4 linked regions of the Homo sapiens genome follow. The protein of the gene in region 4 purifies or fractionates together with the protein of the main gene of each other region. This does not show direct contact. Each region holds a gene or a part of one and is shown on either strand. Other genes may lie near its edges.

Region 1 (3,727 bases), on a different chromosome or scaffold from region 4:
GTGAGAGAAGGCCGAAGACCTGGTATTAAACTGAGAGAAGGCCAAAGACCTGGTATGAAAGTGAGAGAAGGCCGAAGACCTGGTATTAAACTGAGGGAAGGCCGAAGACCTGGTATTAAACTGAGGGAAGGCCGAAGACCTGGTATTAAACTGAGAGAAGGCCAAAGACCTGGTATGAAAGTGAGGGAAGGCCGAAGACCTGGTATTAAACTGAGGGAAGGCCGAAGACCTGGTATTAAACTGAGGGAAGGCCGAAGACCTGGTATTAAACTGAGAGAAGGCCAAAGACCTGGTATGAAAGTGAGGGAAGGCCGAAGACCTGGTATTAAACTGAGAGAAGGCCTAAGACCTGGTATTAAACTGAGAGAAGGCCGAAGACCTGGTATTAAAGTGAGAGAAGGCCGAAGACCTGGTATGAAAGTGAGAGAAGGCCTAAGACCTGGTATTAAAGTGAGAGAAGGCCGAAGACCTGGTATGAAAGTGAGAGAAGGCCGAAGACCTGGTATTAAAGTGAGAGAAGGCCAAAGACCTGGTATTAAACTGAGAGAAGGCCTAAGACCTGGTATGAAAGTGAGAGAAGGCCGAAGACCTGGTATTAAAGTGATGATTCCAGATTTTTTTTTTTTTCTGAGACAAGAGTCTGTCTGTCACCCGGGCTGGAGTGCAATAGCCTGATCTCAGCTCACTGCAGTCTCCACCCCCCAGATTCAAGCAGTTCTTTCTCCTGCCTCAGCCTCCCGCTGTGATTACAGGTGAGCGCCACCAAGCCCAGCTAATTTTTTGTATTTTTAGTAGAGACAGGGTTTTCCATGTAGGCCAGTCTGGTCTCGAACTCTTAACCTCAACTGATCCGCCTGCCTCGGTCTCCCAAAGTGCTGGGATGACAGGTGTGAGCCACTGGGCCCGGCCTTCCCAGATAATTTAAGGAGAGTTTGGCCTGTGCCGGAGCATAATGCACACTCTTGGGCAGGGGATCCCGCCAGCGTCTCAGCGAAGGCTCTGGGAATGGCAGGTGGCAGGCCGCGTTGCTGCAGCGTGGGAACCCTGGGCTCGGGCCCCCTGTCGCTGTGGTTCTGGGGTCTGGGTGCTGGTGCCGTCTGCTGGAGAGTGGTCTGGAGCTGCAGCTCTGTGGAGTCTGGAAAGGGGCTGCCCAGTGATTCTCACCAGCTGGTCAGTGGTGGAGAAGTTGCCTGGGTGTGGACCACAGAGCTGGGGATGGAACCAGGGGCCAGGGCTGGTGGTAAACTCCGCTCTTGCCTCTGCCTGTGGCCTTGCTTTGGGTTCTTTTGAAGACTGCCAGCTCCAAGCTTCTTGGCCCCCATGGGGGAGTCAGGCAGCTGTTCTGCCACCTGCCCTGACACTTTGCAGCATCAAACAGATATTTTGTAGCATTCTGGATTCGAGGGGTCAGAGTTCAGGCCGAAAGCAGCAGGGTCAGTACACCCTGAGTACAGTGTCATGCTGAGGGGCCGGGGAGCCCCAGAGGGTTCTGGTACATTCCACCTGAGGAAGATCGACACTCAGCTCACATCCTGTGCTCTGGGACTTGGGTGAGGATCTCAGGTGAGCACAGCCGGGCCTCTTGTGTGTCCAGACCGCCCCTGACAGCCATGTTCACGAAGGGTACCCCTGTCCAGCTGTCCCCTCTCCCAGGGCTCAGGGCTGCAAGGACGTGGTCTCCTGTGCCAGGCAGAGCCACACGGCCTTCACGACCTCAGCCCAGAATCCTGTGGTGTCAGTGTGGGCTGCCTCCCTTGGGTGGGTAAAGCAGCCACAAGCCCACCCAGATTTGCGGCGGGGGGGACATAGACTCTGTCTCTTGATGCGATGAAAATCAAAGGTTTGTGGCCGTGTTTTAAAATGGTCACAGTCACCCTTACGCTTGCCAAATAGTCTCTTCCCCCAGCGCTCCCCAGAACCTCATTCCACTGCCAGGGTCTCATCTAAACCAGGCCTGATAGATGGGGGTCCTTGGGCCCCTCTCTGCACAGCTGTCTGCAGTGGGGCACCGAGTCACAGTGCTGTGGAGTGGTCTCTGGTCTGTGGTGGTCCTAAGGTGGCTGAGCACATGGCTGGTGGTGGTCTTGGCCATGGTGGTCTTGGCCCGTGGTGGTCTTGGGGCCTGTGGTGGTCGTGGCCCATGGTGGTTGTGGCCTGTGATCGTCAGGGCCCATGGTGGTATAGGGGACCTGTGGCAGTTGTGGCCTGTGGTGATCGTGGGGCCCATGGTGGTCTTAGGGCCTGTGGCGGTCGTGGCACGCAGTGGTCTTGGGGCCTGTCCTTGAGACCCATGATGGTCTTGAGACCCGTGGTGGTCGTGGCCTGTGGTGGTCTTGAGGCCCATGGGGGTCATGGCCCATGGCGGTCGTGGCCCGTGACGGTCATGGCCCTTGGTGGTCATGGCCCGTGGTGGTCTTGGGGCCTCTGGTGGCAGCACACATGGCCAGTGCCTCATGCAGGGTTGGCCTCCATGCCTGGGAACGACCCTGCCACTCTTGGGCTCCTGCCCCGAGTTACCTTCCTTTTCCCTGAGTAAAAAGGGATGTTTTTCGGCTGTATTTTCTCTGGGCTTTTCAGTTCCTGCTGATGTACTTTCTTTAAAACAAAATGTGGGTTTCCTAGGTACCTGTTGATGAGTCGTTGCTGTCACACGAGCCATCGGCACAGAGCTCTTGGATAGCAGCCTGTCTCTGTGCTGGGCACCCTGCGGCTAGCGTGGGCAGGGCCCTAGGGAGCCTTGGCCGTGCTGAGGTGCTGGGTGTGGGGTCTGTGGTGCAGCGCTGGGTTGTCTTGGTGTCCTTGGCACCCCGACAGCGATGTTCTGGCTCTGGTCTCTGGGCAAGTTAGGACTGCTTCCCTCCTGCTGTCCACGTCTCCAGCAGAACCCTCTTGTGGGCAGCCCTGGGAGCAGAGTTCTCTTCCCACCGAACCGGGACACCGCAGCTCTGTCGCCATCCTCTCCCAGGAGGTGAGGGCAGAGCCCGTGTCTCATGCCTGGTTGGTGGCAGTGGGGCACGGCCTGGCTGGCCTGATGCTGGGGAGGGGAGGCTCTGGTGTGGTCACAATAGGGGGCTCATGCGCTTGGACACCGTTTCTGTCTGGCTGAGCCCACTGTGGGTTTCTCCCTTTGGTCCTCATGGTGACATTCTAGCCCTGGGGCTGGGCAGAGGCCACGCAGGGTTCAGGGACTACAGCAGCCTTTCCTTGGCCCCAGCGGCCCCGCATCCTGCTGGCACCTCGTCCTTGCGCTCCCCCTCGGCGGCTCCCTGCCCACCCGTCGGTCCTTCAGACCCGCCTGCCTCTGCCCAGTGGCGCTCGCCCGCCCACTCTCTCAGCTTTTACTTCACCCTCACGCAACTCTCGTGCTCCATCGGGCCCGACCCCTCCTCAGTCAGGCCACGCACACTGCGGGTGGTGCTGGAGACCCTGGAGAATCCGGGCTGACTCCAGGCATGGGCGTGGCGGGAGGGGGTCCTGTCCCCAGGAGTCCGGAGCGTGGCGTGGGCTCATGTTCCGTTGTCTGTGTCGTTAGGGTTTTGGTGGCCTTTTCCTCTAATTTTTAAGTTAAAAAAAATACGTTCAATGCCCCACAGCATCTGCCTCCAAAATCTGAAGGGGCCTTCTAGGTCAGGCAGTTCCCAGCAGTGGCCGCCCCTGCCCGCACCGCCCCTGCCCGCACCGCCCCTGCCCTTCGGGCGCTGGGCCTGGCTGAGCGCCGTCGCCCCCT
Region 2 (3,727 bases), on a different chromosome or scaffold from region 4:
CACTTGAACCGCGGAGGTGCAGGTTGCAGTGAGCCAAGATTGCACCACTGCATTCCAGCCTGGGCAACAGAGTGAGACTCTGTCTCAAAAAAAAAAAAAAAAATTCATCTGAAAAATTGATTAAAGGACTTCCAGAGATTTAAGATATATTATAGTTGAGTATTAGAAACATGAATTTGAAAGCAAATCCATGTATTTAATCATTTTAAGGAAATAATACCTTTGATGCTTTTGGAGACTCATTTACTTGGAAGTTGATGGACTGACCTGAGAATATTAGGCATCCATGCTGCATTGTGATTTAGAGTGTGGGATCTGGAGTAAACTGGGTTCAAATAATGGCTGTACCACTTGTTAGCTTCATGACTTTGAGACCTTATCTTCTCTATGCCTGGATTTTCTATATCTAACATGGGAATGGTAACAGTGCATACATACCTCATAAGATTGTGGAGAGGCTTAAATGAGATAAAACATGTAAAGAGCTTAGATTAGGTCTGGAACACAGTAAGTGTCCAATTTTGGGTGAACAGATACGAATACATAGCCCTCAGTTCTAAGCACACTACATATATTATACTTTATCAAATGTAAGATGTCATTGATTGTAAAATGTACCATTATATTCAATTAATACAGAAAAAATGCTATTGAACTATGACATGTCATTGACACATCCAGAAAAATTAGATTGAGAGTATTAAATCAGGGAAGTTTGAACACAGATGAGGTGTTACATGTTACTAAAGAATTACCATTCAGCCAGGCGCAGTGGCTTACACCTATAATCCCAGCACTTTGGGAAGCCGAGGCAGGCGGATTACCTGAGGTCAGGAGTTCAAGACCAGCCTGGCCAACATGGTGAAACCCTGTCTCTACTAAAAACACAAGAATTAGCCAGTCATGGTGGCAGTCGCCTGTCATCCCAGCTATTCGGGAGGCTGAGGCAGGAGAATCACTTGAACCCGGGAGGCGGAGGTTGCAGTGAGCCAAGATTACTCCACTGCACTCCAACATGTGTGACAGTGCAAGACTCTGTCTCAAAAGAAAAAAAAAAAAGAATTACCACTGGGCTGGGCACAGTGGCTCATGCCTCAATCCCAGCACTTTGGGGAGGCCGAGGCGAAAGGATCACTTGAGCCTAGGAATTAAAGGTTATGGTGAATTAAGATCGTAAGATCATATACTGGACCCCAGCCTGGGCAACAGAGCAAGGCTTAAAAAAAAATTATTTATATAGTTTGAGATAGGGCCTTACTTTGTCACCTAGGCTGGAGTGCAGTAGTGTGATCATAGCTCACTGCAGCCTCGACCTCCTCAGTTCAAGCAATCCTCCCACCGCAGCCTCCCAAGCAGCTGGGAATACAGACGTGTGCCACCACGCCCAGCTAATTTATGTATTTTTTTGCAGAGATGGGGTTTTGTTATGTTGCCCAGGCTGGTCTTGAACTCCTGGGATCAAGCAGGCTGCCCACCTCAGCCTCCCAGTGTGCTGAGATTACAGGAGCTAGCCACTGCACCCAGCCAAAAAAAAATTTAAAAAAGTGAATTGCTGTTAATTTTGTTATCTGTTGATATTGTCAATTATTGTAAAATGGTATTAAATATATGTATTTTATTTTATTTTATTTTATTTTTGAGACAGAGTCTCACTGTGTCGCCCAGGCTGGAGTGCAGTGGCGCGATCTCGGCTCACTGCAAGCTCCGCCTCCTGGGTTCACGCCATTCTCCCATCTCAGCCTCCTGAGTAGCGGGGACTACAGGTGCCCGCCACCATGTCTGGCTAATTTTTTGTATTTTTTAGTAGAGATAGAGTTTCACTGTGTTAGCAAGGATGGTCTCGATCTCCTGACCTTGTGATCCACCCACCTCAGCCTCCCGAAGTGCTGGGATCACAGGCACATGTGTGTATATATATATGTATATCTACATATATACGCATATATATATACACATATATGTGTATATATACATATATACGCATATATATATACACATATATGTGTATATATACATATATACGCATATATACACATATATATGCGTATATATACGTGTGTGTGTGTGTGTGTGTGTGTATTTTTTGTTTTTTTAAGACGGCGTTCTGCTCTGTTGCCTAGGCTTGAGTGCAGTGGCCCAATCTTGGCTCACTGCAACCTCCGCCTCCTGGGGTCAAGCGATTCTCTTGCTTCAGCCTCCTGAGTAGCTGGGATTACAGGTACACACCACCAGGCCTGGCTAATTTTTTTTTTATTTTTAGTAGAGACAGGGTTTCGCCATGTTGACCAGGCAGCTCTCGAACTCCTGACCTCAAGTGATCCGCCTGCCTCCGCCTCCCAAAGTGCTGGGATTACAGGCGTGAGCCACCACGCCTGGCCCATACTGGAATATTTATAGGTGAAATGATGTGTCTGGGATTGCTTTAAAATATTGAGCTTAAGCAAAATCAGGCTGATAGGCAAGATCAACAAAATGTTGATCATCGAAGATGAGTGAAAAGTATGTGGAGATTCATTATGTAATCTCTGCTTTTGTGTAAGTTTGAACTTTTCCATAGTAAAGTTTTTTCAATATATGCGTTACTTAGAATCGATTCAATTTCATCTCCATACCAACCGTGTGGAATATGTACTATTACCATTCCCATTTTACAGATGAGGAAACAGAGGTTAAATCAGGTGCCCAAATTTACTCAGCTGGTAAGTGACAGAGCCAGGCTTGAATCCTAGAAAGTCTAGCTCTAGATTTTAACTACAGCGCTATACTGCTTCTCATTATGCCGCTCATAAATGTTTACTATTATTATTATTCTGTGGTGCATCATTCTTAGAAACACTTTGAAGTAAACATTTGCTTTCTTTTTTTTTTTTTTTTTTTTTTTTGAGACGGAGTCTCGCTCTGTTGCCCAGGCTGGAGTGCAGTGGCGCCATCTCGGCTCACTCCAAGTTCCGCTTCCCAGGTTCATGCCATTCTCCTGCCTCAGCCTCCCAAGTAGCTGGGACTACAGGCGCCTGCCACCACGCCCGGCTAATTTTTTGTATTTTTAGTAGAGACGGGGTTTCACCGTGTTAGCCAGGATGGTCTCCATCTCCTGACCTCATGATCTGCCCGCCTCGGCCTCCCAAAGTGCTGGGATTACAGGTGTGAGCCACTGCGCCCGGCGGCTTTCTTAAATTACATGCATTTTGCCCCAGCTAATATCGAGGCCTCTTCTGTGTGGGTGTGTCAATAAAACACCCTGGAATTGGTGGGGACATGTGGCTTAGTCTTTGGGAATTTGTGGGTTATAGAGACAGCTGCTTTTTAGATTACTCTTTGAAAAACATTTTCTTCTCTAGCAGTTTACTTTTTATTTATTCTGAGACAGAGTCTCTCTGTCACCCAGGCTGGAGTACAGTGGCGTGATCTTGGCTCATTGCACCCTCTCTAGCGGTTTGGATGTGAGATTGCAGTCTTTTGTGATCTTTCAAAATGGAAATCCTCATGTTATAAATGTTTTAAGAACTGTAAGGTGACTGAGTGTATGGCGTGGTTTTTGGACACAAAAAAATGCTTGAGCATTGGGTTACCTGATCTTTTATCTCTTAACTGTGTGTAATATGTTTCTGCCAAAGTATGTATTTTTCCCATGAGTAAGCTGTTTTATTTAATAACATCCTCAGTTTGGTCTGAATGTGCTGAGTTGTTTATTTTCTCCATGCATTTGCTGCATGTGACCTAGTTTGAG
Region 3 (3,727 bases), on a different chromosome or scaffold from region 4:
GAGGAGTACCACAGAGTCCTGGTCAACATCCGGAAAGCTGAGGCCCGGGCCAAGAGGCACCGAGCCCTGAGCCAGGCTGCCGTGGAGGAGGAAGAAGAGGAGGAGGAGGAGGAGGAGCCCGCCCAGGGCAAAGGTGACAGGTGAGACCATGTTAGGGCCATGGGACCCGGTGTCCCCCCAACCCAAGGGCCTGCCCAGGCAATACCCGCTGACCCCCGCCTCTCCTGGGAGCACTCTGACTGGGGGCTTTTTGTCCTTAGCATTGAGGAGATTTTAGCTGACTCAGAGGACGAGGAGGACAATGAGGAGGAGGAAAGAAGCCGAGGCAAGGAGCAGCGGAAGCTGGCACGACAGAGGAGCCGGGCATGGCTGAAAGAGGGCGGTGGGGACGAGCCCCTCAACTTCCTGGATCCCAAGGTGGCCCAACGAGTCCTGGGTAAGCACAGGGCTGGCCAGTGCACTCAGAAAACAGACTTGCCATGGTGCCAGGTTCTCAGGTGGTGGGTAGGGGGTGGCATCCATGGCAGGCCCATGGACAGGGCTGAGAGGCGCCCGTTTGGGATCCCTGAGCCGGGCTTGTTGGTCATGATGAGGGTGAGTAGCATGGGACTGGCCTTCCACCTCCTCATGCCAAACTCTACACCCCAGCCACGCAGCCAGGGCCAGGCCGGGGCAGGAAGAAGGACCACGGCTTCAAGGTGAGCGCCGATGGCCGGCTGATCATAAGGGAGGAGGCAGACGGCAACAAGATGGAGGAAGAGGAAGGTGCCAAAGGTGGGCCCAACGCGCTTGTCCATTCATTCACCGTGTTCACTTATTCCTTCGGTGATCACTTGCTGAGGAAGCGTGGCTAAAAACAGACCAGAGAAACTCTTCTCTCGGCAGCTTCCTCAAACTTTTTGAGTTTCTCAAACTTTTTTTGAGAAACATTAAGAAATCTTTTTATGTTGTAACCGAGCCATTTATACAATACATATTTAACTTAAAGGAAACTATCGGAAATGGTACTTCCCCTTACTGTGTGTGATACGCTGTTAGTCTCTTCTGTTTTTCTCCTCCTCCTCCCCCTCCTCTTCCTTTCTCCTTTTCTTCCTTCCTCTTTTTTTTTTTTTTTTAATGCAAACTTGGCTAAGGCCCTGAAGATGATTTAGAGGCAGAAAGAGCCAGAGGCTGAAACCCTCCCAACTTCCCAATCCCAATGTCTCACATTGCCCGGGAGTCCCTCCGGTGTGGCATCTCGGAGCTCTCTTTAGTCTTTCCTGGCCCCTCTCCACATATCCAGCCATTAGCTAAGAAACACTTAGGTCTTCGCCAGGCGTGGTGGCTCACGCCTGTAATCCTAGCACTTTGGGAGGCCAAGGCGCGCAGATCAGGAGGTCAGGAGATCAAGACCATTCTGGCTAACACGGTTAAAACCCATCTCTACTGAAAACACAAAAAATTAGCTGGGCGTGGTCGCGGGCGCCTGTAGTCCCAGCTACTCGGGAGGCTGAGGCAGGAGAATGGCGTGGACCCAGGAGGCAGAGCTTGCAGTGAGCCAAGATTGTGCCACTGCTCTCCAGCCTGGGTGACAGAGCGAAACTCTGTCTCAAAAAAAAAAAAAAAAAAACACCTAGGTCTTCAAGAACACACCTGTCATCCCTTTGTTTGGTTCCCAGTGCTGCGAGCTCTGGGCCCTTGTCTCACTGCACCTCCTAACTGGAGCCTCACTGCTCCACATGCACCCAACTCACCAGCCACACGACTGCAGCCGCTCGGTCAGCCTCTCCTTAGCTCCGTTTCCTTGCTTCAGAGTGGATATCATACAATCCTAATACCCACTTTTCCGGGTTGGAATGAAGATGAATCGGTGTAATGGGGACAGCGTATGTACTTGGTGTACATGTGCCTGTTATATTTCCGTGTCTAGTGTCTTCTCTGCTCCTCTCTCGCCCCTGTATACTTTCCCATCTCCTGTCCCCCTTGGTGCCCAGGCATTCCTGAGGCTGTCAGGACCCCTCCCCTCTCTCTCTGCCTTTCCAAACCCCCCTGCTCTTCAGGATTCAGCTCAAAGCTCCTTTTGTAGCCCTTCCTGGGCACCTCAGCCTTTAGGCCTGATTCCCCCAGAACTCCTGCCAAGCCCAGAGGAAACCCAGTCTTCAGCCCTTGGTCATGTGCTTTCTTTGGAGATAGAGTCTCGCTCTGTCACTCAGGCTGGAGTGCAGTGGCTCGATCTCGACTCACTGCAGTCTCCATGTCCTGAGTTTATGTGATTCTCCTGCCTCAGTCTCCCAAGTATCGGGGACTACAGGCGTGCGCCACCATGCCCAGCTAATTTTTGTATTTTTAGTAGTGATGGGGTTTTGCCATGTTGCAGACTGGTCTTGAACTCCTGACCTCAGGTGATCCTCCCTCCTCGGCCTCCCAGAGTGCTGGGATTACAGGTGTGAGCCACCACACATGGCCGGTCACGTGCTCTCTATCGTCTTTTGGTTGTTGATTGACTTTGCCTGAGTTTCTCTTCCCTCCAATTGGTCAGTTTCATACTTTATATTCCCACATGGAGCCCAGCACATACTGCATGGGGCAGAGATTTCAAACAGGAGAATGAAGCCTTCCTGGCACAGTGGGGGTGTGTATGGGGCTGCAGGAGCGCCTGACTCCCCCGGAAACCTGGGGCTTTCTTCAAATCTCAAACAGATGAAGGGTGGGTGAGTGGGAAAAGAAAAGTTTCAAACGAAGCCATATTCACCTCAAAAGTAGGATCACCGCTTCTTTGAGGGGCCGTTATCCCTAGGGCCTAGGGTGGGAAGGAGAAAGGGGCAGTGCTCAGGGGTCTCATCTCTTCTAGCAGAAGGATGATATTGGTCTGAGGAAGGCAATTTTCTGGGGCCGGAGTTGGTGGCCCCGCAGCCTGGTGAGCCAGGAGGGGGCAGAAGGAAAGGGTAGGTTTTGAGGAGCTCCCACAGCGCTCATGGGCCTCTCTTTTTTGGCTCCAGGCGAAGATGAAGAGATGGCTGACCCAATGGAAGATGTGATCATCAGGAATGTGAGTAGTTCCTGCAGATGGGGGGCTAGGGCTTCAGACCTAAGCCTGGGCTCCACAGCTTCTCACCCCCACCACACGTAGACATTGGAACTGCCCTGTTTCTGGAATGCTCGGTGCATCCTCACAGGTGTGCATAGCAGGCGGTCCAGAAGGTTGTGGGTGCCAGGCAGGACAGGGTGATGGTTGTCTAGTTAAAGGAGAAAGAAGGCAGAGACCCTTGTCTCTCTAGCGAGGGCATGTGCTATGCAGGGGCAAGGGCAGCAGCTTCCCTGTGTGCTCCTGCATGGGGTGGGGGCATCCACCGTAGGGGAGCATGGCTGTGTGCCCAGCACTGTGCTGAGGGCCCCACATAGCCTCACGAAGATAGGGACTCCGTTGTCCCAGTGACCAGAGGAGCGTACAGAGGTAAGTAGCCTGCCCAGGGTCACAGGACTCAGTCTGTGCAAACCAGGAATTTGAACCCTGGTTTTCCAGTCTCCTAAGCCCAGGAATTCAACCTCTTTGCCACCATTACCCCTGTTGACCTGGCAGTGCTGCCTGCCAGGATGGAAACAGCCTCTCAGCTGCCCCACCTGAACCAACAAGGGTGAAGTGGGCCCAACCCATCACCCAACACCTGTCAGTCTCAAGCTCAGTGGAACATTTCCATTCTGGAGCAGTTTCTTCCCTCTCTGCCCTTCCAGACTATGCCCCAGCCCA
Region 4 (3,727 bases):
TAAGGCCGTGTTGCTTTTTTGTTGTTAATTAAGGTGAAATGTACATGACCAAATTTAAAAGAAAATCTGTAGATAAAGAAAACATAGTCATTTTAATTATATAAAGTAGGCTATATTGACGTCACAGCATTAGAAAAAAGCATAAGTTCTCAATTTCTTCTCTAAAATCCTGAAATTCAAAAATTTCTGCAAACCTAAAAATTTTGTTGTATTCATTTTGCGACAAACCTGGACTGAGATTCCTTCTAGTCATTATTTAATTCTTAGAGTGAATATTCATATATTTGTTGCAGAAATGTTACTGTGTTTGATTATGAGATGCTACCCCAGACCCCATGGGAATGTCATGTAGTATTCAATATATCGTGTCATATTACCTTTCTAAATCCAAAAGAATCTGCATTCTCAAGCACATCTGGCCCCAAGGTACTGAGAACTGTGTAGTTGTTTCAGTTATTATTTTTTTTAGACTGTAGGTAACAACATGGCAACATAAATAGGCCATAGATAAATCATATAAATATATTTTTTGCCTTCATTCACCATTTCATTTATGCCCAGAGACATTTTTTTGATTAATTGGGAAAGAATTTGTTTCTTTGCCCCACATTTGTCTTACCTAGTGGAGCTCAGTGTCAACCCAGTAATACAGTTTTAGGGGAGAAAAGTTAGTATTATTTATCTTCAAAGTCATAATTTCAAAGGCAGACTTATCTTTCTCTGGGACCCACATGCTCAGAACCTTGTTTTTCTGTACAGCTAAGTAGCACTTACAAGGTCCTGGTATCTTCTTCTGCATGCTACCTAGCTTGAGCTGAGGATAGGATTATTTATCTGTCATTACCTCTTCATAATATTGTGTGCAAATCTTTCTTTTTTTCTGTCTTTGGATTTTTCTCTTTACCTCTGCCATGAACATTACTATTTTTTTTGGCTTATGTTTAGTTCTTTAGAAAGTAAAAGCCCTATAAGCATAAAAATCAACAAACATTTCCATTTCCTCTGTGGGATATAAAAAGTGATAAGGTAAGGTTCCAGTCTGAAGGAATTTACAAGCTTTGAGGAGAGAATGAGACAGGTTAGTGTAGTAGGAGAGAGATTGTACTTTAGATTTAGGTAGGTCTGGATTTGAATCCTGGTTCTACTACTGAGTAGTTTGGTGACCTCGGCAAGTTACTTTCCGTCTTGGTGCCTCAGTTTCCCCATATGAAAAATGGGAATGATAGAAATAGTACCTGCCTCATCAAGTCGTTAATGAAGATTAAATGAGATCATGCACGTGAAGTGCTTATTATGCACATAGGAAGTTTATCATACCTGCTGCTAGCCATTATTCACGAACACTGCAAAGTGGTCTAATGGAAAAAGCTTGTACTTTAGAGTCAAACAGACCTACGTTTAAATTCTAGCATCTCCATTACTAGTTATCTGTGACCTTGGGTGAATTATTTTACCTCTTTAAGCCCCAGATTAATCATTTGCAAAATAGGAAACACACTATCCACCTTCTAGGGTCGTTATGAGGATTTAATGAGAAAGTATATAAAGCACTTAGTGAAGTTCTTGGCATGTGGTAGCCTCTCAAGTGCCCCTTTACCAACTGTCCACACAAATACAAGGAGGTACGAGATTGTATACCCAATGACAACAGGAGTAAGTGAAGGTGCTTTGAAAATTGTAAATGCTAATACAATGTGAGCCATTACTGTGTAGATTTGAAGTTCATAGGAGGAAGGAATCCCTCTAAACTAGGAGTGGAAGAGCTGGCTTCCTAGACAAGATAATATCTAAACTTACCATTAAAGAGTGGGTAACATTGATGTCAGCACAGGGAAGTGGGAGAGCATTTCTGTTACAGATGGTCACATAATCAAAATGACTGTATAGAGAATAATAATGATGGTTATGATGATCAATATGAGCAAGCCAAGTGGAATAATTTCTATCGGATTTATTAAATCTGGTGAGTTAAAAATATCAGGTGGGAAAGTATAGTTATCTGGGCAAATATTTTTTTCCTTATAACCCTCCCATTGTTATTCTATCACTAATGAGAAATAAGGTTTCACTTGAACTTTTTATGTTACAGCGAACCGGCCGATGATTTACAAAGGCAGGACAACAGAGTTGTAACGGGTTTGAAGAAACAAAGAAGGAAGCGAAAGAGGAAGTCTGAAATGTTACAGAAAGCAGCAAGAGGACGTGAGGAACATGGTGACGAGTAGCAAGAGACCAAAGGTAATTGACAATAGGATATAAAGTTGAAGTGCTCAATCTCTGATTCTTGTTAGCTTTATATTTCTACCATCATCTTGGCTTGACTGACACATTTTTTTTAACCACACAAATGTTTGGATCACAGGAGGGCCAGCTTCTGAACAAATATTTATCACTAGAGATATTGAGATGGTAGGAAAATGGATAAGAAATGTGCCAAATTGTTTTGAGTGCCACATTATATGGTATACACAGGTCAGCTTTTCAGAGGGAGAAAAGAAGTTGATCCTGCCCACTCTGACTCTATGGCTCCCTGATAGACACCCTTGGTAAATAATGAAGGCCACAGTCCTCATATGTGACCACATCACATATCCAGGGGAAGGAGAATGGCCTTAGGAGTCTGACAGAGATGAGATTGAATCCTGGATCTTACCTGTTAGTCTCAGCTACCTGTTCTTCAAACCTGCACGATGTAGTGTTAGAAGAGGTTGAGAGAGGGATCCCAGAATCATACACTAGGGACTACTTTGTACAGGTTATACTTGTACAGGGTTATAGATCCCTAGCCTTGACTTGGGTCTCCTCCTCCCAAAATAACTGTGAAGGGACAAGTAAGAATAAAATGGTTGGTGAGAAACAAAGCTGTATCTCAGGGACTGGGAGTAAGGAGACCCAGGTCATTAACTAGTAGTGTTTCCATGGGCAGTGAAATTAACCTTTCAGTTCCTTGATACCATCATAGATTTTTTGTGTAACTTAAACAATATAATGTATGTGAAAATGTTTTGAAAATTGCAATGCAGTACCCAAAATTATGGTATTAAGTTACAGAGAAGCAAAGGAATGGAATGACAGGCCATTGAATTCCGTGTCAGGAGACTCTGGCTTTAGTCCCAGTTCTGCCATTATTTACAGTGTTTGCTTGAGCAAGTCCTTTAACTTTCTTGGGCTTCATTTCACCAATCTTCAGAATGAGAAGGTTGATTTGATGAATAGGAAAAGTGATTTATCTCAGAAGAAAAAAAAGAAAATCTTTATATAAGGTATCATATATATATATGGGATACATATTTACTTAAGGTAACACATAAATATGTATTACTATAATGCCTGTGTATTATTATTCATATAAATATATTACCTTGTATTAGTTTAATGCAATACATGTGTGCATATGTACACATGTACACACACATATATACATATGTAACATTATAACTAGACTAACAAAACTTGGTTTCTGTGGACCATTCACTGAGACATGGAAGTTAACTTTGTTATTCAGAAATTATCTCTGTAATGATATTTGCTCTAATCTGTTTTATATGTATGCCTCACAGTAACAGAAGATGATGTACTGGCAAACTGAAAATACATAAGTTAATCATAACATTCACTATATAGAATTTGATAATTTTGTTGCAGGGACTTCTTTTATGACAAAGTGCGATATGTGAATACCAGCCTTTTCAAGTTGTTTAACCCTACTTTACTTTTCTCCCATAGC

Evidence for each region. The genes of interacting proteins can lie anywhere in the genome.
Region 1: the proteins of FMR1NB (region 4) and BOP1 purify together in Homo sapiens (affinity purification with mass spectrometry; 2 studies listed by BioGRID and IntAct, with this or other methods). This does not show direct contact.
Region 2: the proteins of FMR1NB (region 4) and PITHD1 purify together in Homo sapiens (affinity purification with mass spectrometry, with the first as the bait; one large-scale study listed by BioGRID). This does not show direct contact.
Region 3: the proteins of FMR1NB (region 4) and RRP12 purify together in Homo sapiens (affinity purification with mass spectrometry; 2 studies listed by BioGRID and IntAct, with this or other methods). This does not show direct contact.

Annotation. Positions count from the first base shown.
Region 1 is NC_000008.11:144,277,753-144,281,479, reverse strand, and holds part of BOP1 (ribosome biogenesis protein BOP1), read left to right. Parts: intron 1-3,727. UniProt on the Homo sapiens protein: Component of the PeBoW complex, which is required for maturation of 28S and 5.8S ribosomal RNAs and formation of the 60S ribosome.
Region 2 is NC_000001.11:23,781,377-23,785,103, forward strand, and holds part of PITHD1 (PITH domain-containing protein 1), read left to right. Parts: intron 1-3,727. UniProt on the Homo sapiens protein: Promotes megakaryocyte differentiation by up-regulating RUNX1 expression.
Region 3 is NC_000010.11:97,363,155-97,366,881, reverse strand, and holds part of RRP12 (RRP12-like protein), read left to right. Parts: coding exon 1-140; intron 141-260; coding exon 261-436; intron 437-648; coding exon 649-774; intron 775-2,978; coding exon 2,979-3,028; intron 3,029-3,727.
Region 4 is NC_000023.11:148,022,776-148,026,502, forward strand, and holds part of FMR1NB (FMR1 neighbor protein), read left to right. Parts: intron 1-2,089; coding exon 2,090-2,225; 3' UTR 2,226-2,238; intron 2,239-3,726; 3' UTR 3,727-3,727.